7 linked regions of the Homo sapiens genome follow. The protein of the gene in region 3 purifies or fractionates together with the protein of the main gene of each other region. This does not show direct contact. Each region holds a gene or a part of one and is shown on either strand. Other genes may lie near its edges. The genes, in order: CELSR2, FRAS1, PSG8, LOXL2, MGRN1, FAT1 and FREM2.

Region 1 (2,713 bases), on a different chromosome or scaffold from region 3:
TAGCTGCTTCATTTTCCAATGGGAAAAAAAAAACAAAAAACAACCCTGAGCAGTATAGTTAGGAGGCACTGAGTCACTGACCACCATTCAATTCCAACCAGCCTCTCAATGCAGCCCTCCCTGCTTCTTGAATTCTGCCCCAGAAAACTCATCCCTGTCTAGGACTCAGCCCTGAGGGGCTGGGCTGGAAGGCTGCCTGCCCCGTGCAGCCTCTCCCACCGTAGAAGTCCTTTCCGTCCTGGTGAAAAGGACACCTTCCTGCCCGCCCACCATGTCTTCCTTGGAAATGCCAGGAAATGGGCTCTGTGCTGATCCAGCTATTTGGGAGCAGTGTCATGGACATGGGCAGAGGGACAGGCTTATCAGCCAGTGGTGTCTGAGTCTCCCGACCTCCCGGTGGGGCCTTCTGGGCCCTGCCGGCTCTTCTGTTTTCCAGAGACCAGACCTTCCTCCCTGTGGGAGGACAGGGTACCACACAGAAGCGGACAGTGACAGTGCTGTACCCGCACAGAACTAGTTTATTCAGTAGTATGGGGCATGAAAAAACAACAACAACAAAACGCTACCCTATTTACAGCAACAACCAAACTGTACAATCTGATGGTTAGTACCAAGTTAGCATCCAGCATCTTTGTATTTTTTTTAAATCAAGTCATCAGTAGTAAAAACCAGTTAAATTTTTAACCCTTTGCAGGAATTGCTGAGGGGAGAAGACGGGGGAGAATCCACGGCAGAAAAGCCAGAGGCTGGCCTCACAAATGAGAAACAGGAGCCTTTCTTTCCTGCCCACAGCCTCTTTTTCTAGCCACCTGCTCCAGAAGGAAAGTCAGTGACAAGTCTGGAATACATGCTTGGAGTAAATGGTGACTCAGATGAAAAGCAGTCGGCAAAACTGAGGAGAGGGGAGGAGAGGTGGGGAGATGATGGCCTGGGGCAAGGGGAAGGGCGTCAAGCCCCCAAGCCAGGGCTGCTGGGAACACCCAGCCTGTGATGGCCATATCAGACCCCCGGGACTGGACACGAACCCATCCCAACACAAAAAGCAAATAAATAAAACAAATATATTAACTCTCTCTTCACAGGGAGCTGGGGTGGAGTCGGGGAGAAAGAGGAACAGGACCTGGTCCTTTGAAGAAGAGAGCCAATTCCAAGAAGGGGTTAAAAATAGAACATGTCTCAGAGGCCACAGCAGGTTAGACAAAGTAGCATTTGTCTGATTTTGGGGGGTGGGGTGGGTGAGTGGACACCAGAACCCAGACTTGAAACCTGTGCTTGATTGAGCACCCTCAGGGCAGCCGAGCCAGCACTGTGTTTACTCTTCCTCCCCCACCCACATCACAGCAAAGAAGCGCAACTTAACACATGACTGGCCTGCCCGGGGCGCGGGGCGGGCACGAAAAATGAAGCACTTTTGGGTCAGCAACTGAGCAAACACCTGGGCTGCCGCGCACGGCCAGAGTCCAGGAAAAGGAGAGGGGCTGGGGCTGCCCGACCCCCGCCTGGGGGCACAGGCTCCCCTGAAAATGTGTTCATGCAGCATTTGGGGGTCCAGGGGCGCTGAGTCCTTCTGCCCCCTCACCGGACAGGGCTTTTCCAGTTCCTGGGAGAGGCAGTGCGGGCAGGACGAGGCACACCCTTTGCCCTGGCCCCTCACCGTTCTGAGGCCTGCCCGGGTGCAGCCTGAAGGGTGTGAAGCCCTGGCTGCGTGTGGCTTTGTCCTTTCCTTTTGGTGATGGCGTATGAGGGGCAGGCCCCCCAGGAGTCCCTCTCCTCCCAGAGGCACAGCAGATGGGAAACTGAGGAGAGGCTGGGAAGCATCCTGGGAGGTCCTATCCTCTTTGGGAAGGGAAAGGGGAGTCAATTTCCAGCGTATAAAAAAAATGAATCCCTGAAGTCATGAAGAGTGGAGATCCTTTTTTAAATTCTTTTTTTCCTCTTTTCTGAAAAACTTTGTCTTGGAGATGTTGGCCCCAGGGGTCCAAAGTGCAGTGAGGGGAATGGTGGGGGGGGAGTTGGCACTAGATGGCCTTAGGTGGGGTGAGTACCCCTCCCGGCAAGGCCCAGGCTCCTCAGATGGACGTTTCGTCGCTGCTGCGGGCAGGCGATGGGGAGCGGGGCAGGATAAAGCACAAGACAGGAGCAGGGCATGAGTGCGGCTGGGGAAGGGAAGGGAGCCTCGGGCGTAGGAACCACGGCCCAGGGTTAATGCAGGAAGTTAAAGAAGAGAAATCTGGAGAGGCAGGAAAGGAAAGTGGCAGAAAAGGCAGACAGAGGGTTAGTTGAAACAGAGGAGAGAGTGAAAGCTTTCACCAGACGAAGGAAACAGGAAAGCACCCCCAGCTCCCCATCCTCCCGCACTCTGCCCTAGGCTGGGCTGCGCCGCGTAGAGCCTAGGAGGGGTGGCCCTCCCCGCAAGGCACCATGGTTTGTGGGCACGGCATAGTAAGGGAGCTGGGCCAGTTCTGCCCATTTGTCCTCCAAATGCCATCCAGAGTCACCTGGGGAGGCCCGGAGGCAGCTCTGGGCCCAGGTGAGGCCTCCGAGGGGCTGCACCCCGTCCCGCCCACCCGGCCACACTCACTCGGAGCCTGACGAGTCCTCATCCACCGTGCCTGCCTTGATGCTCATGGCGATGGGCATGACCCCGTTCAGCTGCTCCTGGAGGCTCTGCCGGGGCGGTGGGCGGGGAGGGGGGCCTCCCCGGCTGCCCTCA
Region 2 (3,500 bases), on a different chromosome or scaffold from region 3:
CACTTGGAGCAGTTACACAGTTACAAATAATGGGCCAAATGGAAGTTCGCTCTACAAATTAGCATTCACTCTCTAGGTTGTTCTGGAGATTCTGTGCCTGGCTGATCAGCTCTCCAGCCATGAGATACCAATTCTGGGTGTCCATGAGGCTGATACAGGAGTTCTGCCCTGAATTGCCCAAGCTGGTCTTAAGTAGCACCTGACCAGTCAGGAGTTTCAGACTCTGGGCTCACCCCAACTCATTCTCTCCTGAAAACCTGACACTCATCTCAGAATGCTAAATTAGATTTTGCTCTAAATCTCCTGTTCTGGATGCCAATTCATAGTCTCATCTCCTGCTGATGATACATTTTTATGAATTTTCTGCTCATGCTTCCTTAGGACCACCGCCAGAGTCATGCCTTTGTAAAGCGGTGTTTCTTTCCTCCAAGAAAAGGTTATCTCATAATCCAAGTAGAGAAGATAATTGTTTTCCTCTCTCCTCCCTTGTGATATTGCCACCATACTCTCTCACTTCCCCTTCCTAAATTTACTCCCCATCATTCACCCATGACACCATTCATTCATTCAACAAACATTTCTGGAGTGCTTGTTACATGCAAGGCACTGTTGAAGAATGAAAGGCGTGGCTCACAAAGGTCCTACTTTCAAGGAGCTTGGAGTCTCACAGAGCTGCCTAGAACCTTTCACAGTTCATCCTTTCTAGCTTTTAGTAGCGAAATGTTACTAGTTTGGAATGTTCTCAAAGAGCTTGAGTCATTCTCATACAAATATTACACAATGTGAAGGCTCTGTTATTTGCTTGGTGACTATGGTGTGCCATGCATCAGAAGAGGACATGTCTTTTACTCTCGAATAATGAAATTGTGCCTCCAATTCAAAACAACATGGCATGCACGCTTATGTTTCCGCCAATAAGGCAGAAACAGAAGAGAAACAAAAGCAAGCTGTGTGTAGCCTACACAAAATAGTTAAGCTGATACTTGAACACTAAATTATTTTAGAGCCATGTGTTCATGGCCTTGTCATGTGCTGATATGGTAAAAATAATTGCCTGAGCTACCAGAAAAGAACCCCTCAAAGAGAAATCCCTGAAATACTGCACCAGGAATAGTGCCTCTGTCTGCTGTGTCACACACAGCAAGGAGAACCAGCATGTATCTGTTAAGTCTGATTTCACCCCAACCTGGGCTTTCTCCTAATTTGCCTTATTCAAATGAATCACTTACTTTCCCGAAGCACTAACAGAATAAAAAACCATACCTAGGACATGGGATTGTCTGTTACAGGAACGGGCAAAGACCGGAGTAGGAGGAAAGTGTGGTGGGTTTTCTTTAAAGCATTTATGGCAATGTTGAATTAAAAGGCCGTAGTACATTGATCCTGTTTCGCAGCATCCTTGGTCAGGGATGGATGTCTCAGTGCCACATAAACTAGTTGGGAACAGACACCTCCCTGGGGTGAAGGGCATCACTAATGTGCTCTGATACGCCTGCCAGGCCCCTCCTTAACTCGGGTTTCAGTCTCCCCCTTTGTAGGAGGGAGTTCTCTGTGGCTGAGGAGGCAGAGGCTCCCGTGGTTTTCAGAGGATTTTACTTAAGCACACTGAAATCCCCAGGTAAAAAGGGCTCTGGAAAAGCAAAGTACAATTAGAGGCCAAGGAGCATACGCTGTCAAGTGAAATCATGAGCAAATATATGTGTTGTGTCGATTAGCAGAATTTTTAATGGAATCTGGGTGTCAGCAGTTCATACTCTGCTGTCTGGGGACTCAGGAAAAGCCCTGTAGGAGAAAGCTGGGGCTGGGGGAGGGAACCAAAGGCCCGTACCTACTTCTTCTCTCTGAGATCTGCCATGGTACTCTACCCAGTCCTCTCATCTCCATCTGCTAACCTAATTGTTCAACTCCTGTCCTGATACTAAAGTACTTGTTTTCTAAGACCAGCCTTACAGAAGGAGCTGTGTACAGTTGTTGACACTATTAAAGGGATCTACGGAAATAACTGTAATACTCTGGGGTTCTCAGTGGTTCTTTGCTGAATGAGGTAGCTCAGTTGTGAGTTGATGCATGTGATGTGTGCTGTCTGCCACTCAAAGCTATAGTTTTCCCTTTTTTATCTGCGAGATTATAAAAATACCAGTATTTCCCCCCATTTTATAAAAATGATTTTAGAAAAAAATACACATAGGTCTCCTCCATTAAACTTCTGTTCCATCTTGTAAATTGTTGTGAACTCTGACTTCTAGATTCAGTCTTTTGACTTTAGCACCTTTGAACGTGTAAGCCGCCTCAGGCTCACTCAGGATGTTGACGTTCCGCACAGTGCAGTAGTGTCTATTCACGTTCTTCTCCACCCGGTCCGGGTGCCTCTTGGGCACTTCTACCTTGGTATTCAGAGGATATTCTTCCAAAATGTCCTCTGCGGGCTTCTTCTTCCTCTGTTTCTGGCATTTCCTGTTGATAAAACAAGCCACCAAAAACACCAGAAGTAGAAGCATGATTGCAGCCAGGGCACTGCCAATGGACGCCCCAGTCTGTGACAGGGACGCAGCTACCGCCAACTCTTGCATCTCCAGATTCAGGGACTTCATATTGGTGCCATTCTTGACTTGGTCTCCTTCATTGTCATAGATGAGGGAATCATCAAGGATCAGCTGGCCATCGGGCTCTACCAGGTCCCTTCGGTTGCGTCTGAGTGGAGCTGTGAGAGAGCGCTGGACCCGGGGCCCTGAGATGGTGTCAGGGCCAATGATGTAGATGACCTGGAGATACCACTGGTGTCCTGCTTCCACCTGCAGGGGGACAAACCGAACATGTTGTTGTTGCCCACAGACCACCTCTGAAGAAAGGAAATGGAAGGATAATTGCCACTATATGCCTTGATAGATAACTGATTTCCAGAAAAGCATTAGCAATGGTTGGTGTCTACTAATACATAGAGAACTGAACCAGATATGGGTTCTATTTTATTTCCAAATTAAGATGATCTTGAGTCAGCTATTCGGATTCTTTTTTGTTTCCCTATGTGTACATGGAATAGCCTAAGAAATTATCTTTCATGGTCTCTTTAGCTAAGTGAATGCTTATATTTGTCTGTCTTTATTGATAGCAGTGAAATAATAGCATTAAAAACCACATTTATTTACAGTGACCTTCAATTATGTGTTATGCCAATTTACTATTTATTGGTGAACTTCAGCGAAAATGGAGTCATTCAACAAAATATTCACTAAACATATACTCTGTGCATAATACACAGATACGTGACAAACATTTTCTAAACACCTTCTCAATCAGGCTATATCATCAAGTATTTTATCTCCCCCTCATCTTCCTCCATTAAAATGCTTCATGGTTTCGAAATAACTTCTGAAGCATGATAATAGTTCTGAAGGGTCATAGATTAATATTTAGAGACAAAAAAAGTGAAATTTCATCTTGAAAGTTCATGTTCATTGCTAAGACTTAAGGTATTTGTGTTTATCAAATAGTAATTCTTG
Region 3 (4,251 bases):
TGAGCCCTCACTTCTGGTGGAGGAGAGGATGAGCCTGTGGCTGCGGACACACCTCATGTGACCCTGATCTCCCCTTTGTGATTGTGTGACTCTGGCTCAGGGACTGTGTCTTCCTGTACCTCAGTTTTCTGTCAATCAGATAAGCTAAATGGCAAATGGACAGTGGCTTTTCATGCTATCTGTGAATAAATGTTAAATGATTCACAGTCACCTGACCTAATGCTTGGCACAGTGGAGGTTTCACACAAATAGCATTTATTATTAATTTGCTTCCATGAGAAAGCCCCTTTGCGTCAGATCCCTGTGGGCAAGCTGCTACCAGGTACATCTTCTCTCTTGTGTTTCTGCTTCTGGGGACATTAGACTTTCTATGGACTGGCCTAAGCCTCCTAAGGCAGTTGTCTGATGGCCTACAAAGCTTGTCTTTCTGTCCTCTCCACTCTGAGTGTCAGGTGAAGAAAACTCTGTCCTTGCCCAGATGAGGCTCTGAGGGCTGAGCCCTGGCTGGTGAACAGCTCCAGGAGACACAGTCCTCTGACAGCTGGTAAATCCTCGGTCCCAGTAAGCCCTGCCCAAGAAGCCACAACCCAGCCCCAGCACAGGCTCCTCAGATTTATCTGGAGCAAGGATTTAGGGACACTGTTCTGGGGGTGAGGCTTCTAGGGCTGAGCTTCTCTGAGAGTATCTCAGGGGCTCCTCAGGCCAAGCCCTACTCAGTTCTCCAGGGTCTTTCTCAGGGTCAAATTTATGAAGAGGGCATGAGGTGCTTGTCTGAGACTGATCTCCTCCTGCTGAGTCCCCCCATCAGACTGTCCTTCCTCTGCAGCGAGTGTCTGCAGGGTCTGGATGCGGGAAAGGAATTCTGATCTGTTGAAATTTGTCTCCTCTGTGTGTGTCCTGCACTAAATGCCCAAACCCCAGCATGGGACATAATGCAGAGAGGGACACAGGCAATGTCCAGGCCTGACAATCCTGTGTGTGTGAAGTAGAAGTGACCCCTGTCCCCCAACACCCAGGGATCATGTGGAATCACTCACGATATAAGGTGAAGGTGAAATGTCCAGTTACTCCTCTATTCTCATCACCTCCCATTATGATGTGTAAGGTGTAGGATCCTGCGTCTTCCTGGGTGACATTCTGGATCAGCAGGGATGCATTGGAATATATTGTTTCTCGTCCACTGTATGCAGGCCCATATATAATTATTTGACCGTCTACTACATATGATGTAATGTAATGGTAGAGGTCCCTGATTTGCCCTTTGTACCAGATGTAGCCAGTAAGATTCTGGGGCAAATTGTGGACAAGTAGAAGAACATCCTTCCCCTCAGAAACTTTGGTTGGCTGGGCTTCAATCGTGACTTGGGCAGTCGTGGGTGGGTTCCAGAAGTTTAAAAGTGATGCTAGGAGGTGGAGAGAGCATCAGTCAATATTGAGAGCTATGTATTGGTGTGAAAACATGGGGCCCTGGGTCCTGAGAAGTTCTCTTCAGTCCTCAGCCTTGAAGACACAGACACACACACATACAAACACACGCACACACACACACAAAAGCGGCATGTGTGTCTGTGTGTGTGTATGTGTGTGTGTCCTACTATCCTACTAGGTCAAGGTCAGCCCCATGACCCCCATTCCTTCAACACTTCTGACCTTGGCATTTTTCTGTTTGCAATCCTCTTCCCCAGGGGTCCGCATGGCCCCCTCCACACTGCCCTCAGGTCCTGCTCACATCAGGGCATCCTTAGATTTCTTTCCTGACACCTCCTTCAGATACCCTGGGTCTTCCCTTTCTGACCTTTCCCTGCTCTGCTCCCTCCAGGGTTCTTCTCAACACCTGACCTTACATTCTAGATCTCTTTGCATGTCTGTCTTCCCCTCCATGACAGCGTGAGCTCCATGAGGACAGGGATTTTTGTGATCTTGGTTGCACCCCAGTGCCCAGAACAGGCTGCAGACTCCTGTAGATGTGAGAGTTCTCAGGGCCCTCCACGCCCTTGGTGTTTTTTTTTCCCCCCAATTGTTGAGGTTTCTTGCTGAGGACAGTGTTTCATGCCCTGTGTATATTTTTATGTGAAGTGTCATCTGATACAGTTATTATTATCATATTTCAAAATGTGGTGGCCCCTGATGATTAATCAGGAAAACAGAACACAAGATTTTCCTACCTCTTACCAATTCTGGTTCCTGTGACTTTCCTGTTTTGACCCCTGTCCCTCTCTGGTGTATTTCCCCCTATCCAGGCTCCAATAGAGCCTTCTTTCCTTTTTCTCTTTTTTCTCTTTTTTTTTTTTTGAGATGGAGTCTCATACTGTCTCCCAGGCTGGCGTGCGATGGCACTATCTCAGCTAGCTGCAACTTCTGCCTCCTGGGTTCACGTGATTCTTCTGCCTCAGCCTCCCGAGTAGCTAGGATTAGAGGAGCACACCACAATATCTGGTTAAATTTTTGTATTTTTAGTAGAGACAGGGCTTCACTGTGTTGGCCAGACTGATCTTGAACTCCTGATCTCATGATCCACCTGCCTCAGCCTCCCAAAGTGCTGGCTTCTTTCATTTTTTAGTACCCCATACTCTCAAGGAGACCCCATCCAGTCACTCTGCTTCCTCCTCCTGTCCTCTCCCAGGAGGTTCTCTCCTCACCTGTGAGCAGGAGCCCCTTCCAGGTGATGCGCTGTGTGCAGGGAGGGGCTGAGAGGAGCCCCATGGTCTCTGCTGTCTGTGTGTTCTCCTCTGTGGAGATGAGCCTAGGATCCAGAAGCTTCCTGAGCACAGCTCTCAGCAGTGCTGTCCTGCCTCCTTCTGCGCTGAGCTTCTTCCCGGGGCAGGAGCACCTCTCAGGTTCATGGGCGGGGTCAGGCCCAGGACACCTCTCTGTCCCCTCCTCTCTCAGTCCTGCCTCCTTGTCCCTCCTGTTTTTCCTTTTGTCTGTGTTTCAGGTCCCTGGGAATTGTGGAGGCCTCTGCCTTTTTCAGCAGTGATTCTTTCACCAAACCTCAACACACACTTTGTGCAGACACACACACACACACACACACACACACACACACACACACACACACACACACACACAGAAGGACACACACAGACCTACACAGTCAGAAACATACCCTGCAGGTTGGGCAAGCAGAGTCCTGGGCCTCAGCCTCCTGCTGTCCCCATGGCTCTGGGTCGGGGTGCACATTCATGCCCTTTGGCCTCTTTCATCCCCATCTGGCTCTCCCCTTCAGTGCAGGAGGCTGGAGCTGCACCAGGTCCCTGTCACAGTGACACCCCATTGTGCTGTGGGTGAGCTGTGTGTTGCCTGGTGAGAGGGACCCTTCCTTTCTCTAATCGTGTCTAGCTTGGCTGCAGCTTCCAAGGATGGACACTCAGGACCTGGGTGTCCCAGAGGAAACTGTCCTTCCTGGAGGTGTGCAGGGTGAATCTCTCATGTCTCTTGGGAGGAGAGGCCTGTGCTGGTTGCTCAGTGGGGGCTGTGAGTCCCATAGTCAAAGGGACAGTTCTCGGTCACTCTGTGACTCCGTGGGGTCTGGCCACTGAGCTGGAGCTCAGGGTTTCTCATGTTCTTCCTGACCATCTTTGATGTCCTCTCTTCTCTGCCCAGCTGATTGTCCTGTGGTCACCACACCTTCCCCGTGGTGGTGCAGGAGGAAGTGGGGAGTCACCCAGGAACCCCAAGGGAGATGGCTCGTTGAGACGCAAGAGGGTGTGCCTGGGACAGAGCAGGGGTTCAGAGCTGGAGAGATTCATCTTGACTTACTCCGTGGCCATGATGGGCTCAGCCCTCCATGTGCCGACATACCCAGGGGTCTGTCCTGAGGGTTTTGACCTGGCCAAGCTGCTGTGTGTAGAGGAGGAACAGGCAGTGGCCAGAGAGCCTGTCTGGAGGGACCTTGCTCACACCTGAGGGGGCGTGTGGGGGTGAGTTGTGTTCTGGGAGCAAAGAGCAATAACATCCCGCTTCTCCCTGCAAGCGCACAGGAGAGGTCTGCCTTCCCAAGGGACAGCTGGGGCAGGTGGCCACATCCCGGATGGTGCCTGTGTGTGACCATCACACGCACTCTGAGCACCCCGTGGTGCAGCGGGCAGGCAGGTCATAGGGTGCCTGGCTGATTCCCGGGGAGGCTGTGGGCCCTTAGGCAGCTGCTGTTCTGTGTCAGTGCTAGGCTTGGCCTGGGATGCCCCAGAGAACAGGATAGATGGGGCAGGGGCGGGCATTTAGGGAGCAGTGACAGAAAGAGTTGATGAGGAT
Region 4 (3,500 bases), on a different chromosome or scaffold from region 3:
ATTTTTAGTAGATACAGGGTTTCACCGTGTTAGCCAGGATGGTCTCGATCTCCTGACCTCGTGATCCACCCGCCTGGGCCTCCCAAAGTGCTGGGATTACAGGCGTGAGCCACTGTGCCTGGCCGGAAAAGCATATTTCTAAAGATGATTTCACCCACCCCAAGAATAGCATATCTAGGTAAAATCACATGATCCTAAGTATATACCCACATAGGCTTTTTGGGTTGCTTTTGTGTTTATTGTGGTAAAATATACGTAACATAAAACTCACCATCTTAACTATTTTCAAGTGTACAGTGCAGTGGCGTTAAGTGTGTTGACACTGCTGTGCTACCATCACCATCAGCCATCTCTGGTACTTTTGCATCTTCCAAAACAGAAACTCTGTACCCATTGAACACTAACTCCACTCTCCCCCTCCGACCAATCCCTGGCAGCCCCCATTCTACTTTCTGTCTCTGTGACTATGACTGAACTAGGTACTTCATATAAGTGGAATATATTATATTTGTCTTTTCGTGTCTGGCTCATTTTACTTAGCATGGCTTCCAGGTTTTTTCACGTTGTAACCTGTGTCAGAATTTCCTTCCTTGTTGAGCCTGAATAATATCCCACTGTATGGATAGACCACATTTGTTTATCTCCTCCTCCACTGGTGGACATGTGAGTTGTTTCCACCTTTTGGTGACTGGGAATAATGCTGCTGTGAACATTGGTGTACAAATGCCTGTTATGGATGAACTTTTACAAAGTGAACATGCCCTTGCTACTACATCAAGAATAGAACATTAGCAAGAATGCATGAATTTAAAGGCAAAGCAGGAGATTTCAAATACGTTTCATGCCCAAACATGGCTGCTTCAATTACACCTCAAGATCTTGGGACTGGATATTGATTTTCTCTACCATGAGGGGGTTTGGAAGAGATATTTGAAAGAACACAGTTAATAATCTGTGATTTGAAAGAGTCAGTTTATAATCACAGATTAGTTATGAGATTTAAGTAGCTCCTTTCCTTAAAACGTCTAGGGATGGGAGTACAACCTGTTGAGATTTGCAATTGTAGCTGTGTTAGGGTATCACCACTAGGATCATTCCAGGCTGCCCCTTGGCCATTGTAGGGTTCAAATCCACCTGGAGAACTCCTGCCTTTCTGGCAGCTTCTGCTGGAGCACAAGTCTAAGCCCATTCTTTGGCCGTATCCTGCCTGCCCTCCTCATTTCCTTCCTCCCTCCTTCCCTTCCCACCTGATCTCTCTCTCGTTTTTTTGTTTGTTTGTTTGTTTGTTTGTTTGTTTGTTTTTGAGACTGAGTTTTGCTCTTGTTGTCCAGGCTGTAATGCAATGGCACGATTTGGCTGACCGCAACCTCCACCTCCTGGGTTCAAGCGATTCTCTTGCCTCAGCCTCCCGAGTAGCTGGGATTACAGGCATGTGCCACCACACCCTGCTAATTTTGTATTTTTAGTAGAGACAGGGTTTCTCCATGTTGGTCAGGCTGCTCCCGAACTCCCGACCTCAGGATCCTGCCGCAGCCTCCCAAAGTGCTGGAATTACAGGTGTAAGCCACCGTGCCCAGACTTCTCTCTCTTCTTAAGTAGAACGATTTATCAGTGACTCTAAGAGTTTATGTGTGTATTTAGAAATAAGGCCAGGCACAGTGGCTCACACCTGTAATTCTAGTACTCTGGGAGGCCAAGGTTGGGGGATTGCCTGAGCTCGGGAGTTCGAGACCAGCCTGGGCAACAGGGTAAAACCCCATCTCTACTAAAATTACAAAAATTAGCCAGTCATGGTGGTGCACGCCTGTAATCCCAGCTACTCAGGAGGCTGAGGCGGAGGTTACGGTGAGCCAGGATTGTGCCACTGTGCTCCAGCCTGGGCGACAGAGTAAGACTCTGCCTCCAAAAATAATAAAATAATAATAATAAAGTCTTCAGTCAAGAGTAATATTTTGATGCCTGGCAACCACCCCCAGGCTGCCTGCATGACACTTTCAAGTGTCATCGAAGTAGATTCTTTTTTAAAAGACTTTATTGAGATATAATTTGCATATCATCCAATTCACCCATTAAAATGTACAAGTCAATGGATTTCAGTATATTCACAGATATGTGCAAATATCACCCCAGTCAACTTTAAAATGTTTTCATCAACACAAAGAGAAGTCCATATCCGTTAGCCACCACCGCCTATCCTCCCAGCCTTAAACAGCCACTAATCTAGTTTCTGTCTCTATATTGCCAATTTTGTATAATTTGTGTAAATAGAATCATATAATATGTGGTTTTTTTTTTTTTTTTTTGGTCTGGCTTTTTTCACTTCCCTTAATGGTTTTTTTGTTGTTGTTTCTTTGTTTTGTTTTGTTTTGAGACGGAATCTTGCTCTGTCACCAGGCTGGAGTGCAGTGGCGCCATCTCGGCTCACTGCAACCTCCGTCTCCCAGGTTCAAGCGATTCTCCTGCCTCATCCTCCCAAGTAGCTGGAACTACAGGCGTGCGCCACAATACCCAGCTAATTTTTGTATTTTTAGTAGAGACGGGGTTTCACCATGTTGGCCAGGATGGTCTCGATCTCTTGACCTCGTGATCCGCCCACCTTGGCCTCCCAAAGTGCTGGGATTACAGGCGGGAGCCACGGTGCTCCCCTAATGTTTTTAAGCCTCACCATGTGTCAGTATCTCGTTACTTTTTATGGCCGAATAATATTCTATTGTATGGGCATACCGTATTTTGTTAATCCATTTATAGTTGACAGACATTTGGGTTGTTTCCACCCTTTGAGTATTATGAATAATACTGCTATGAACATTCATGTAAAAGTTTTGTTTGAACACCTGTTTCAATGTGTTTCAATTTTGGGGGGGTATATACTTAGGAGGGGGGTTGCTGGGTCATATAGTAATTCTATGTTTAGCTTTTTGAGGAATCACCAAATTGTTTTTCACAGTGGCTGTAGTATTTTACATTTCCACTAGCAACGTATGAGGATTCTAATTTCTCCACATCTTTGGGGACACTTTTTATTTTCCCCTTAAGAAAATTCCAGCCACCTTTATGGGTATGAAGTGGTATCTCATGGTACTTTGTGTTTGCTTGATGACGAGTGATGTATCACACCTTTTTATGTGCTTGTAAGCCATTTGTATATCTTCTTTGGGGAAGTGTCTATTTAAGTTTTTGCCCATTTTTAATTGGGTTGGTTGTCTTTTTTTTTTTTTTTTTTTCTCTGAGACAGAGTCTCACTCTGTCACCTAGGCTATAGTGCAGTGGCACGATCTCGGCTCATTGCAACCTCCACCTCCCGAGTTCAAGCGATTCTCCTGCCTCAGCCTCCCGAGTAGCTGGGACTACAGGCACGCGCTACCGTATCTGACTAATTTTTGTATCTTTAGTAGAGACAAGGTTTCACCATGTTGGCCAGGCTGGTCTTGAACTCCTGACCTCAGGTGATCCGCCCACCTCGGCCTCCCAAAGTGCTAGGATTACAGGCATGAGCCACC
Region 5 (3,500 bases), on a different chromosome or scaffold from region 3:
GCTGAGGGGAGGGCGGCGGGGCCAGCGCACCTGGCGTTTCGCCCACGGACCGAGAGCTTTTCCGGTTCCACAAACTCCCTGGGCAGGGAGGCCGGGACTGGGCAAGTGGAGCTGACGGGTTATATGAATCAGACACTAGCCTGGGGCGGAAACGATCTCCCCTACTTGTCGTGGGTTTAAAAATGAGGGCGGGGGCAAAAAAACGTAGCCGGAGGACCAGACACTTACTGTTTCCCTTTTAGGTTTCTTGCTGGCCAGGGAGGCGGGGTGCGGCTTTGATTTTTTAAAGGGACACTGTCAAGATAAAAATCATATGTTTTACAACTACCACCCCCACGCGGCCCTGGAGTGGGCTGGACAGGTCTGACTGGCTGTCCTCTTGCCACACCGTGGCGCAGAACTTCACAAGCTTCCGGGGGACGTGAATCTCGGGACTGTCCTAAGTGAGGGTTGACTCGGGTCTGGGTGGGCCATGTGTGCGTCTCGGCAGCTCCCGGGAGCTGTGCTGCTGCAGTGGGGAGGCTGTGGAGCCCAATCTCATCCCCATTGCCTGTCCCCCCGCAGTCTGGGTCACCTGGGGCAACAGATTTGGCCAAGGTGGACGTGAGGGCAGCTGAACGCTGCCTAATGCAGGCTGGGTGCAGGGTGGAGATCCTGAAGCCACACTGGTCAAAGTCCCCCAGCCAGCCGGTGCCCAGGCACCGCCGCTCACTTATCACCAACCATGAACCCCTCAAGAGGGCTGGGGAGAAGAGTCAGCCCCAGACCCACCCACCCCACCATCATCTTTAGGCACTCGCTGGAGAGAACACCCACGGTGGCTCTTTCTGTCACTACGTGGAAGGGGCTCCAACAGGAACCTGGCAGGTGAGGAGGAGCGTTTGCTTTTGCTCCATGCAGAGAGGACGGCGGCTCCCTGGCTGGGTGCCAGCCCTTCTGGGGCATGTGGAGGTCAGAGCTGCCTGGTCACACCTCGGACCCCGGCCGCCCAGCTCACTCAGCATAAGAGGGACAAACATGGAGGGACCTACTGGATCCTCAGCCACCAGAACACAAACAGGGAGGGGCAAAAACAAGGGACAATAAACCTAGCCACGCCTGAGCATCGATCACTCCCTAGGTGAAACCCTCTCAGAGGCAAATCCCTCAGGGGCTGCTTCTCTCTCCACCAAAAACCTGAGCACACGCAGCGTTTCCGAATCAAAGCCAACATCAAAAGTGCTGGAGAGCGTGGTGCCAGGAGCCCCACGATGGTAGGGGCCTAGAGGGCCTGGGTTGACAGGGACCCCCAAGCCATGTTTCTCCTCTAGCATCAAGACCATGTCAGATTTTAAAAGACAAACCCAAAATCTGGGTTTTAAGGGAAATTCCAGACTTTTAAACATTGACCCCATTTCAGAAACATTGCACCTGCTGCCAGGGAGGCCCATAGGGCCCAGGTCAAGGCCCTGATCAAGGGGGCTTGGGAGGAGCCTTCTAGAGCAAAGGCGCTGTCTGTGAACGCCAGTCCTCAGGGCTCTGCTCCTCTTTTCTGTTTAGAGAGGCAGCAGAGCCTGGAAGAACCAACGGCTCATAACAGCCACAGCTAAGAGCCAAGAAAGGCACTCAATCTGACAATGCGCGTGGCCAGTGGGGAGCAGGGGGCCTAAGACCCGGGCCCAACCAGTCACTGTCCAACTCCCCCATTCTGCTCCCTGCCCACCACAGCCCCTGCCACCCATCCCCATCTCTGTCTCTCCCTGTGTCTCTCCACATCTCTCTCACCCTGTCTCTCCACATCTGTCTCTCCGTCTCTCCACATCTGTCTGTCTCTTCCTATCTCTCCATCAGTCTCTCCCTATGTCTCTCCACATCTTTCTCTGTCTCTCCCTTTGTCTCTCCACATCTCTCTCATCCTGTCTCTGTGTCTCTCCACATTTGTCTCTGCCTCTCCCTGTGTCTCTCCACCTCTCTCTCGCCCTGTCTCTGTGTTTCTCTGTGCATCTCTCTCCATGTCTCTGTCTGTCTTTGGGTCCTTGAAGCCAGGGTTCCACCTCCCTTGTGTTGCTGAAGCAGGGCCTGCCCTTAAGGTCCCCACTGAGGGCGCCTGGTGGGCCTGGAGCGTGGGAGGAGGGTCACCAGTGCCCCTTGCACAGCAGCGCATGGGGGAAACAGCATGGCTCATTCACTAAGAACCACGGGGTGGAGGCGGTGGCTCAGGCCTGTAATCCCAGCACTGTGGGAGGCTGAGGCAGGACTAGCACTTGAGCCCAAGAGTTCGAGACCAGCCTGGGCAACATGGGAAACCCCACCTTACTAAAAATACAAAACATTAGCTCGGCGTGGTGGTACACGCCCGTGGTCACAGCGTCTTGGGAGGCTGAAATGGGGGAATTGCTTGAGGCGGGAGGTCGAGGCTGCAGTGAGCTGACATTGCACCACTTTGGGTGCACACCAGCCTCGGTGACAGACCGAGACCCTGCCTCAAAAAGAAAAAAAAAAAAAAAAAAGCACCTGGCTCCACCGAGACCTCGACCGCGCTCAGCCTTGTCGCAGGCTCTGGTACTGATGGCAGCAGCGCTGTTCCCAGCAGCGGCACCCCAGGGCCCAGCCTGGCCACCCCCTTCATGCCTCACAGCCATCCATGGGGGCCATGCCTGCCCACTGGACAGAAGAGAACACGGGGCTGCTGGCTGGACCGTCTGGGCCTTGCGCCTGGCCCAGGCACTCATGCCCCTCTCCCGCCCATCCCGCAGGCAGGAGGCGGCACTTACAGAGTGCTCATCATGCTCCAGGCTCTGGGCCAGGACGGGGCTGAAGGACACGGGGGACAGGGCTCCTGGCTTCTTCCGCACCGCCCGGATCTGCAGGAGGGCCCGGAAAGCTGCGGCAGAAGGAGGGCTCAGATCAGGCCCAGGCGACACACCCAGCCCCGAGGGGACCCTCCCAGCCCCAGGGATCAACACCCCCCCCACACCATAGGGGTCCTGGGGTGACCCCGCTTCCAGATCACAACGGTCTTTTTTTTTTCTTTTAGTTTTAAGGAGCAGGAATTTAATAGGCAGGAAAGATGGGGGAAGAAAGAAAGAAGCAGCTCCCCTGTACAGAAATAGAGGGAGGGGGCGCTCCAAAGACGAGAGACAGAACTCCCGCAAACACAGTATTAATGAAATGGCCCCGGGCAGGAAACACAGCAAGGCCATGCAGTGCTGCCCAAGGCGGGGCTCCAGAGGGTGTTTCCAAGAGGCTGGTGGCCATGACCCCCAAAGCGTCACACCCCTGAAGCTCCAGGCTGCACCCGAGACAGGACGTGACTGCAAATCAGCAGTCCTGGCTGAGCCCAGAGGAGCTCTTGGCTGCAGGACAGGATGGCAGGCGGGGACATCACACTGGGGAAGCTGAGGTGGGGATGTCATGCTGTGGAAACTGAGACAAGGACATCATGCTGAGGAAGCTGAAGTGGGGAGTCACGCTGGGGAAACTGAGGCAAAAACATCACGCTGGGGAAGCTGAGGGGCACA
Region 6 (3,500 bases), on a different chromosome or scaffold from region 3:
CTGTGTAAAAGCCTATGATGCAGACAGTTCAGACATAGACAAGTTGCAGTATTCCATTCTGTCTGGCAATGATCATAAACATTTTGTCATTGACAGTGCAACAGGGATTATCACCCTCTCAAACCTGCACCGGCACGCCCTGAAGCCATTTTACAGTCTTAACCTGTCAGTGTCTGATGGAGTTTTTAGAAGTTCCACCCAGGTTCATGTAACTGTAATTGGAGGCAATTTGCACAGTCCTGCTTTCCTTCAGAACGAATATGAAGTGGAACTAGCTGAAAACGCTCCCCTACATACCCTGGTGATGGAGGTGAAAACTACGGATGGGGATTCTGGTATTTATGGTCACGTTACTTACCATATTGTAAATGACTTTGCCAAAGACAGATTTTACATAAATGAGAGAGGACAGATATTTACTTTGGAAAAACTTGATCGAGAAACCCCGGCGGAGAAAGTGATCTCAGTCCGTTTAATGGCTAAGGATGCTGGAGGAAAAGTTGCTTTCTGCACCGTGAATGTCATCCTTACAGATGACAATGACAATGCACCACAATTTCGAGCAACCAAATACGAAGTGAATATCGGGTCCAGTGCTGCTAAAGGGACTTCAGTCGTTAAAGTTCTTGCAAGTGATGCCGATGAGGGCTCCAATGCCGACATCACCTATGCCATTGAAGCAGACTCTGAAAGTGTAAAAGAGAATTTGGAAATTAACAAACTGTCCGGCGTAATCACTACAAAGGAGAGCCTCATTGGCTTGGAAAATGAATTCTTCACTTTCTTTGTTAGAGCTGTGGATAATGGGTCTCCATCAAAAGAATCTGTTGTTCTTGTCTATGTTAAAATCCTTCCACCGGAAATGCAGCTTCCAAAATTTTCAGAACCTTTCTATACCTTTACAGTGTCAGAGGACGTGCCTATTGGAACAGAGATAGATCTCATCCGAGCAGAACATAGTGGGACTGTTCTTTACAGCCTGGTCAAAGGGAATACTCCAGAAAGCAATAGGGATGAGTCCTTTGTGATTGACAGACAGAGCGGGAGACTGAAGTTGGAGAAGAGTCTTGATCATGAGACAACTAAGTGGTATCAGTTTTCCATACTGGCCAGGTGCACTCAAGATGACCATGAGATGGTGGCTTCTGTAGATGTTAGTATCCAAGTGAAAGATGCAAATGACAACAGCCCGGTCTTTGAATCTAGTCCATATGAGGCATTCATTGTTGAAAACCTGCCAGGGGGAAGTAGAGTAATTCAGATCAGGGCATCTGATGCTGACTCAGGAACCAACGGCCAAGTTATGTATAGCCTGGATCAGTCACAAAGTGTGGAAGTCATTGAATCCTTTGCCATTAACATGGAAACAGGCTGGATTACAACTTTAAAGGAACTTGACCATGAAAAGAGAGACAATTACCAGATTAAAGTGGTTGCATCAGATCATGGTGAAAAGATCCAGCTATCCTCCACAGCCATTGTGGATGTTACCGTCACCGATGTCAACGATAGTCCACCACGATTCACGGCCGAGATCTATAAAGGGACTGTGAGTGAGGATGACCCCCAAGGTGGGGTGATTGCCATCTTAAGTACCACGGATGCTGATTCTGAAGAGATCAACAGACAAGTTACATATTTCATAACAGGTAAAAAAAATTCATACCAAACGGTTTAATTAATTTAAAATGATTTTTAGAAGCATAAAGTATAAGATCTGTATTGTATGGAAATTGGGGATTTAAGGGATGATTTTAGTTAAAAATATCTAAAATAATACGTAGAAATAACATCTGTTGAGCCTCATTTCAAGCTTGTTACCTGAGCAAAGCTACCAGTTGTTTCATTAGACTGTTTTTGATTTTTGTGACTCATTCTTTTGAACCTTATACTTAGTGTATAATAAATATAATTAAAAACATCTATAGTTTTAATGCAGGCTAAATGATTAGTAGTCTTAATGCTATGTTTATGCATTTTAATGCTGCCCTTGTTTTTGTAAATTGGAAGGCTAATATATGCCAAATTAATTCTTTTAATACTCAATTCTTTTAAACTATAACATTATACATCTTTTGTACAGTTTATTTTTTCTGTTACTTATTTTTATCCTTTCAACAAATTTGATTATTATCTTCCTCCATTGATTTAATAGGAGGGGATCCTTTAGGACAGTTTGCCGTTGAAACTATACAGAATGAATGGAAGGTATATGTGAAGAAACCTCTAGACAGGGAAAAAAGGGACAATTACCTTCTTACTATCACGGCAACTGATGGCACCTTCTCATCAAAAGCGATAGTTGAAGTGAAAGTTCTGGATGCAAATGACAACAGTCCAGTTTGTGAAAAGGTAAGCAGCTCTTCCCTTACATTTGTGTGTTATGAATTTCAATTTCTTAATTCTTTCAATGGGACCATCATTTGGCGCTGTGGTGTAATTCACATGTGTTTTATGATCACTTACTGATTAAGCAGAGGTGTTAAATGGGGTAAGACTTGGAAAAGCTTCAGAACTATTTGCGGGAATGCTCAATAAATCAAAAGCCTCATTCTAGAAAACTAAATTACGGACAGGACTCCAGTTGCATCCAACACTGAAAATGCTCTGTAACCTTTTCATGAGGGGATTCTCTTAATATGGGGATACAGCTGTTTTGGGGGAAGGATCTGACGGGAAACAAAGTGCCGACGTGCCGTGAGACACTGTTTTGGGGGCATCTGCTCTTCTGCACGCTGGAGAAGCTCAGAGGTGGACAGCGTGCTTCCTGCATCTGCGCGGCTCACCATTCAGTGGGAACTAAAAGTAGACGTAGGAAGGGCTGCTCCCTCCAAGGTTAGATGAGGGCATGTGGCTCGAGCAGGGGTGGTCCCTGGGGCCAGAGGGTGAGAAGGGCTGCCCAGAGAAAGGGCTGGCTCAGCTTCGGGGGGCAGTAAGTGGGTCGTCAGGAGTGGGTGGGGAGGGGCCATGGAGTGTGAGGAGGGATTGTGGGAGTAGCCACTGAGTTTGCCAGAAGTGGGGAGTCTGCACTGAGAGTCTTGGAAAAGGGTGAACTGGATTACAGTGGGCAGTGGCGGTCGTTCCAAGGGATTTGAACTCGATCCTAGAGAAAATAGGGACTTTGGAGCCTTTTATATCGGTAAGGTAGAGATGACATGAGACGAGTTCTTAAGCTTAGTTTGGAAGCATCGTGCCCATTATTTAGACAGGGAGGAGTGGATGCAAGGGGGCCCTGGAAAGGCAGAGGTGGGGAAGGAGTGAAAGGACCAAAGCCACCACCGAGGAAGACCATCTGGTGTGACAGCCAGCCAGCATGCCATCGAGCCCGACTTTCTACATGAGTAGGGGGAGCGACCAAGGCCGTGGCAAAGAGGAGTCTGAGCCGGGGGCTGGTTTTAGAGGAGTTCCGTGTTGAGTTCCAATTCCAGTTTGCTAAAGTAATGAGACATACAGTTGACCATGTTTTTTAGACATTGAGAGATGGCGAGATGTTGGATGGG
Region 7 (3,500 bases), on a different chromosome or scaffold from region 3:
CCAAATCCCACTGTAATGAAAGTTGCATGTTCTGCAGAACGGAGCCCTGACTCCCAAGCCAGTATAGTGAATGGGCTTCTCCCTTCCCTCACTAAATAACTCTGCATAGGACACTTGTCCTTTCTGCCTCAGATTGTGTCCACCCACAAAGGAAATTCAGGTTAGAAAAATCCTGTTGCCTAAAGACCGCAGGTGCCTGAAGCAACTGTTTTTTGTCACTGTGTTTGCAACAGGTCAGAGAGGAGGTTCACAATGATGAAATAATTTCCCCCTTCTAATATTAAGCTTGTCTACTTATCTTCATGCTCTTAATAATGAATTAGATGTATATTTTGGTGATGAACATATTGTTATTTTACACATCTTTAAGTATACTTTCCTTTTTCATGTATATCCTAGTAGCATGCCCTGTAAATATCATTGTTATAACTCTAGATAGGTGTTTATCAATTACGTCTCTGGATGAGTATTTGCCTGTCATGAAATATTATTAACAATTTTAAAAATCAACAAAGTAAATAAATGTAAACAAATCTTTTAGTTACAAAGTTCCTAACAACTATAACCGTGTCAGAGCAATGCTCTTAAAATTTATTCAAAGTAACCTAAGTTTGAAGGCTTTTTTGGAATGGTAATTGATAATGACAGCAATGTGAATAAACAGTATTTAGAAAGCACATCCTTCATTAAGGTGCCAAAATGCTTCATGAACCACCTGCAGCATACAACACAGAGGATGCGTTGGATAGGTATGGCAAATGGAGCAGAATTGGAAAGCCTGCTTCGATTTTAATTCACCAAAGTTCACCTCCTGCTTCGGCAGCCTATCCTTGCCACTTTCAAAATACATCAGTACTCCCTCTAATGAAGGCCACTGAGATGGGAGGTAGGACAAGAAGGGAGCTGTCCTCCTAGGAAAGTGAGTCCCTATATTCTCCCCATCCCCTTTGTTTCCTTTCCTTCTCTTGGACTCTAATTTAATGCTCTGTTTGTGAGGCTTTTAGTGAAGCCACATTCTCAGGAAACAAGGATAACCAAGAAAAGAAACATGAAACATACCTTGTGTGAACTGAGTGATGCTGTGGTTGCCTTTGTCCAGGTTGAGAAGATATCCATGTTGAGGGGCCTCTGTCACGATAAATCTAAGAGAAATGTGTAAGCTGTCTCTGTCCTCCACTTTCAATATTTTGCTTGTGATCATGAACCCCAAGTGGCCAGTGGCTAGAGTGCGAAGTGTAGAGGCCCCCTTATTCACTGCGATTTGGGGGACACTGTTGTCAACAGCCAAGACCTGGATCTTCATCACTTGGGGTCTCCTTGTTTCAAACACCGTATCAGGAAAAACATAGAAGTCTGTATGGGTGCCATCAGTCACTGTGAAGGAGAAGCTATCTTCACTTGACTCAGTGCCATCATGTTTGTAGCTGATTAAGTTTTCATTCAAGTCTTGCTTGGTAAAAACCATGACAGGTCTGGTATTGTTGAATAGGAGATGGCCATGAATAGGCACCTGGGTGATAGTGAATTTCAGGAGCTTGTCAGGAGTATCTCTGTCTTCGACAGTGAGCTCAAAAGGAGTAATCAGCTTGTTTTCACTTTCACTGACAACCAGCTTGTGGATGGTGACCACTGGCTTTTTATTGTCCACATCGCTAATGGAGATACGGAATGTCCGAAAGACAGGGTTACGTCCATCGGTGACTTGAAACTCAAAACTGTCCATTTTCACTTCATCATCAGCTGTGTGGATGTAGTAGATTTTGTTTCCAGCCAGTTGCAGCTGAGTGAAAGACGTGATGGACACACCAGGCTGATCCGTGCATTCCAGGTGACCTCGCATGGGAGCCCTGGTGATGGTAAAAACCAAGTTTTCATCAGGACTGTTCAAGTCACTAGTGCTTAGTAGGTCTGTTGTAAGAGTGACTTTGCCACCTTCTTTCAAGGACACTCCCTTACTTATCACATCAGGGAAGACAATGTCAATGCTCCCGATGGACACATAAAAGTAACGATCTATGAGGGGATTTATTCCATCAGTCACATCAAATTTAATTAGGTCCCGAATGCCCTCTTGCCCCAAATGGACATACTGAATTAAGTTTCTGTCTACTTCATCCTGGGTAAAATTCATGCCCAGTGTGATATTTTCAAAGGCACCAGTAGGTTTTCGTCTCTGTAATAAGCCATGTCCTGGCCCATAACGAATAATATAAACCAAAGATTTGTCTTCTGAATCTAAATCTGTTGCCATTAATATTTTGTTGTTGATAATCTTGGTATCCCCAATTTCTATTTCTAGTCCATTATTGATAGTCATTCTGGGCGTCTCATCATCAACAGGGATAACTATAATGAGGACCGTCTTTTCCACAGAGTGCTTCCCATCTGTTAGTTTAATCACAAAACTGTCTTCCTGGGTCTCGGAGTCATCATGCTCATAAATAATGCTGGAACTCTCTATGATCTGATCCAAGGTGAAGCTTTCGACCAAAACCGTGCCATTTATCAGCTGATTCATGATGTGACCATGAGTGGGGAATTGGGTAATAGTGAAAGTTAAATCATCCAGGGGAACATCAGCATCAGCAGCATTGAGAATGGGTGTATCAATTACCAGACTCATGCCTTCCATCACCATAAATTCTCTCATAAACATCTCTGGCTGTTCATCATTGGTGGGAATGATTACAATGGGGAAGAACTGTCTCTCTGAAAAGTTAATGCCATCAGAACAACGAAATACAAATCGGTCCTCCACAGGTTCCACCCCTTTATGGACACTCTGGACATAGTTTATGTGGCCCTGCCTGAGATCTTTCAAGTTGAAAGCACTTATGGCAATCCCTGCTCTTGATTTCTCAGAGCCTGGTGCTGGAGAAATGTTTTCAACATAACCTGAAGTAGGCTGAATAACTATAGTGCACAAGATGTCATCATTCAGGGAGTCGACATCTTCAGCACTTATATGCACTGATGTTATAACACTTTTATCACCTTCCATTACTATCAACTGTTCACCTACAAAGATTTCTGGGGCCTGGCTATCAACAGGCAGGATGGTCACCCATATAGTAACTCCTTGGATAGTATTGCCACCAATTCTCCATTCTTGAGACATATCTGACAGACTCAGGTTAAAAGAATCCGCTTTAGGCAATAGGCCTATCTCACCACTGGTGTGGGTATATACAACAGAGCCCTCCAAGATGTCCCTTTGAGTAAACTGCTCTGCTGGAATGCCATTGACCAAGATTTCCCCATACAAAGGTGGATCTTCCAAGAGGAAAGTCAACATCAAGTCATCAGTTTCCTCATTGGTCCCCTTAATAACATTGGCAGTGATTTCAGTAGCCCCATTTTCTAAGACATCTAGATAGGACTCCAGAGTGCCAGTAGGATGGCTCAGTATGGGCACTTCATCATCCACTGGCCGGACATTTACTCTGAGAGTGATGGGCACCACATGATGTCTGTCACTGACTTCCAAGGAGCAGCTATCA

What was found.
Region 1: the proteins of PSG8 (region 3) and CELSR2 purify together in Homo sapiens (affinity purification with mass spectrometry; 2 studies listed by BioGRID and IntAct, with this or other methods). This does not show direct contact.
Region 2: the proteins of PSG8 (region 3) and FRAS1 purify together in Homo sapiens (affinity purification with mass spectrometry; 2 studies listed by BioGRID and IntAct, with this or other methods). This does not show direct contact.
Region 4: the proteins of PSG8 (region 3) and LOXL2 purify together in Homo sapiens (affinity purification with mass spectrometry; 2 studies listed by BioGRID and IntAct, with this or other methods). This does not show direct contact.
Region 5: the proteins of PSG8 (region 3) and MGRN1 purify together in Homo sapiens (co-immunoprecipitation; 3 studies listed by BioGRID and IntAct, with this or other methods). This does not show direct contact.
Region 6: the proteins of PSG8 (region 3) and FAT1 purify together in Homo sapiens (affinity purification with mass spectrometry; 2 studies listed by BioGRID and IntAct, with this or other methods). This does not show direct contact.
Region 7: the proteins of PSG8 (region 3) and FREM2 purify together in Homo sapiens (affinity purification with mass spectrometry; 2 studies listed by BioGRID and IntAct, with this or other methods). This does not show direct contact.

Annotation. Positions count from the first base shown.
Region 1 is NC_000001.11:109,273,539-109,276,251, reverse strand, and holds the end of CELSR2 (cadherin EGF LAG seven-pass G-type receptor 2 precursor), read right to left. Parts: coding exon 2,582-2,713; intron 2,231-2,581; coding exon 2,203-2,230; 3' UTR 501-2,202; downstream 1-500. UniProt on the Homo sapiens protein: Receptor that may have an important role in cell/cell signaling during nervous system formation.
Region 2 is NC_000004.12:78,539,823-78,543,322, reverse strand, and holds part of FRAS1 (extracellular matrix organizing protein FRAS1 isoform 1 precursor), read right to left. Parts: intron 2,793-3,500; coding exon 2,199-2,792; 3' UTR 1-2,198. UniProt on the Homo sapiens protein: Involved in extracellular matrix organization. Required for the regulation of epidermal-basement membrane adhesion responsible for proper organogenesis during embryonic development. Involved in brain organization and function.
Region 3 is NC_000019.10:42,762,879-42,767,129, forward strand, and holds the start of PSG8 (pregnancy-specific beta-1-glycoprotein 8 isoform a precursor), read right to left. Parts: upstream 2,801-4,251; 5' UTR 2,704-2,800; coding exon 2,640-2,703; intron 1,404-2,639; coding exon 1,038-1,403; intron 1-1,037.
Region 4 is NC_000008.11:23,394,121-23,397,620, reverse strand, and holds part of LOXL2 (lysyl oxidase homolog 2 precursor), read left to right. Parts: intron 1-3,500. UniProt on the Homo sapiens protein: Mediates the post-translational oxidative deamination of lysine residues on target proteins leading to the formation of deaminated lysine (allysine).
Region 5 is NC_000016.10:4,676,826-4,680,325, reverse strand, and holds part of MGRN1 (E3 ubiquitin-protein ligase MGRN1), read right to left. Parts: intron 2,864-3,500; coding exon 2,754-2,863; intron 295-2,753; coding exon 229-294; intron 1-228. UniProt on the Homo sapiens protein: E3 ubiquitin-protein ligase. Mediates monoubiquitination at multiple sites of TSG101 in the presence of UBE2D1, but not of UBE2G1, nor UBE2H. Plays a role in the regulation of endosome-to-lysosome trafficking.
Region 6 is NC_000004.12:186,615,857-186,619,356, reverse strand, and holds part of FAT1 (protocadherin Fat 1 isoform 1 precursor), read left to right. Parts: coding exon 1-1,649; intron 1,650-2,155; coding exon 2,156-2,352; intron 2,353-3,500.
Region 7 is NC_000013.11:38,690,077-38,693,576, reverse strand, and holds part of FREM2 (FRAS1-related extracellular matrix protein 2 precursor), read right to left. Parts: coding exon 1,060-3,500; intron 1-1,059. UniProt on the Homo sapiens protein: Extracellular matrix protein required for maintenance of the integrity of the skin epithelium and for maintenance of renal epithelia. Required for epidermal adhesion. Involved in the development of eyelids and the anterior segment of the eyeballs.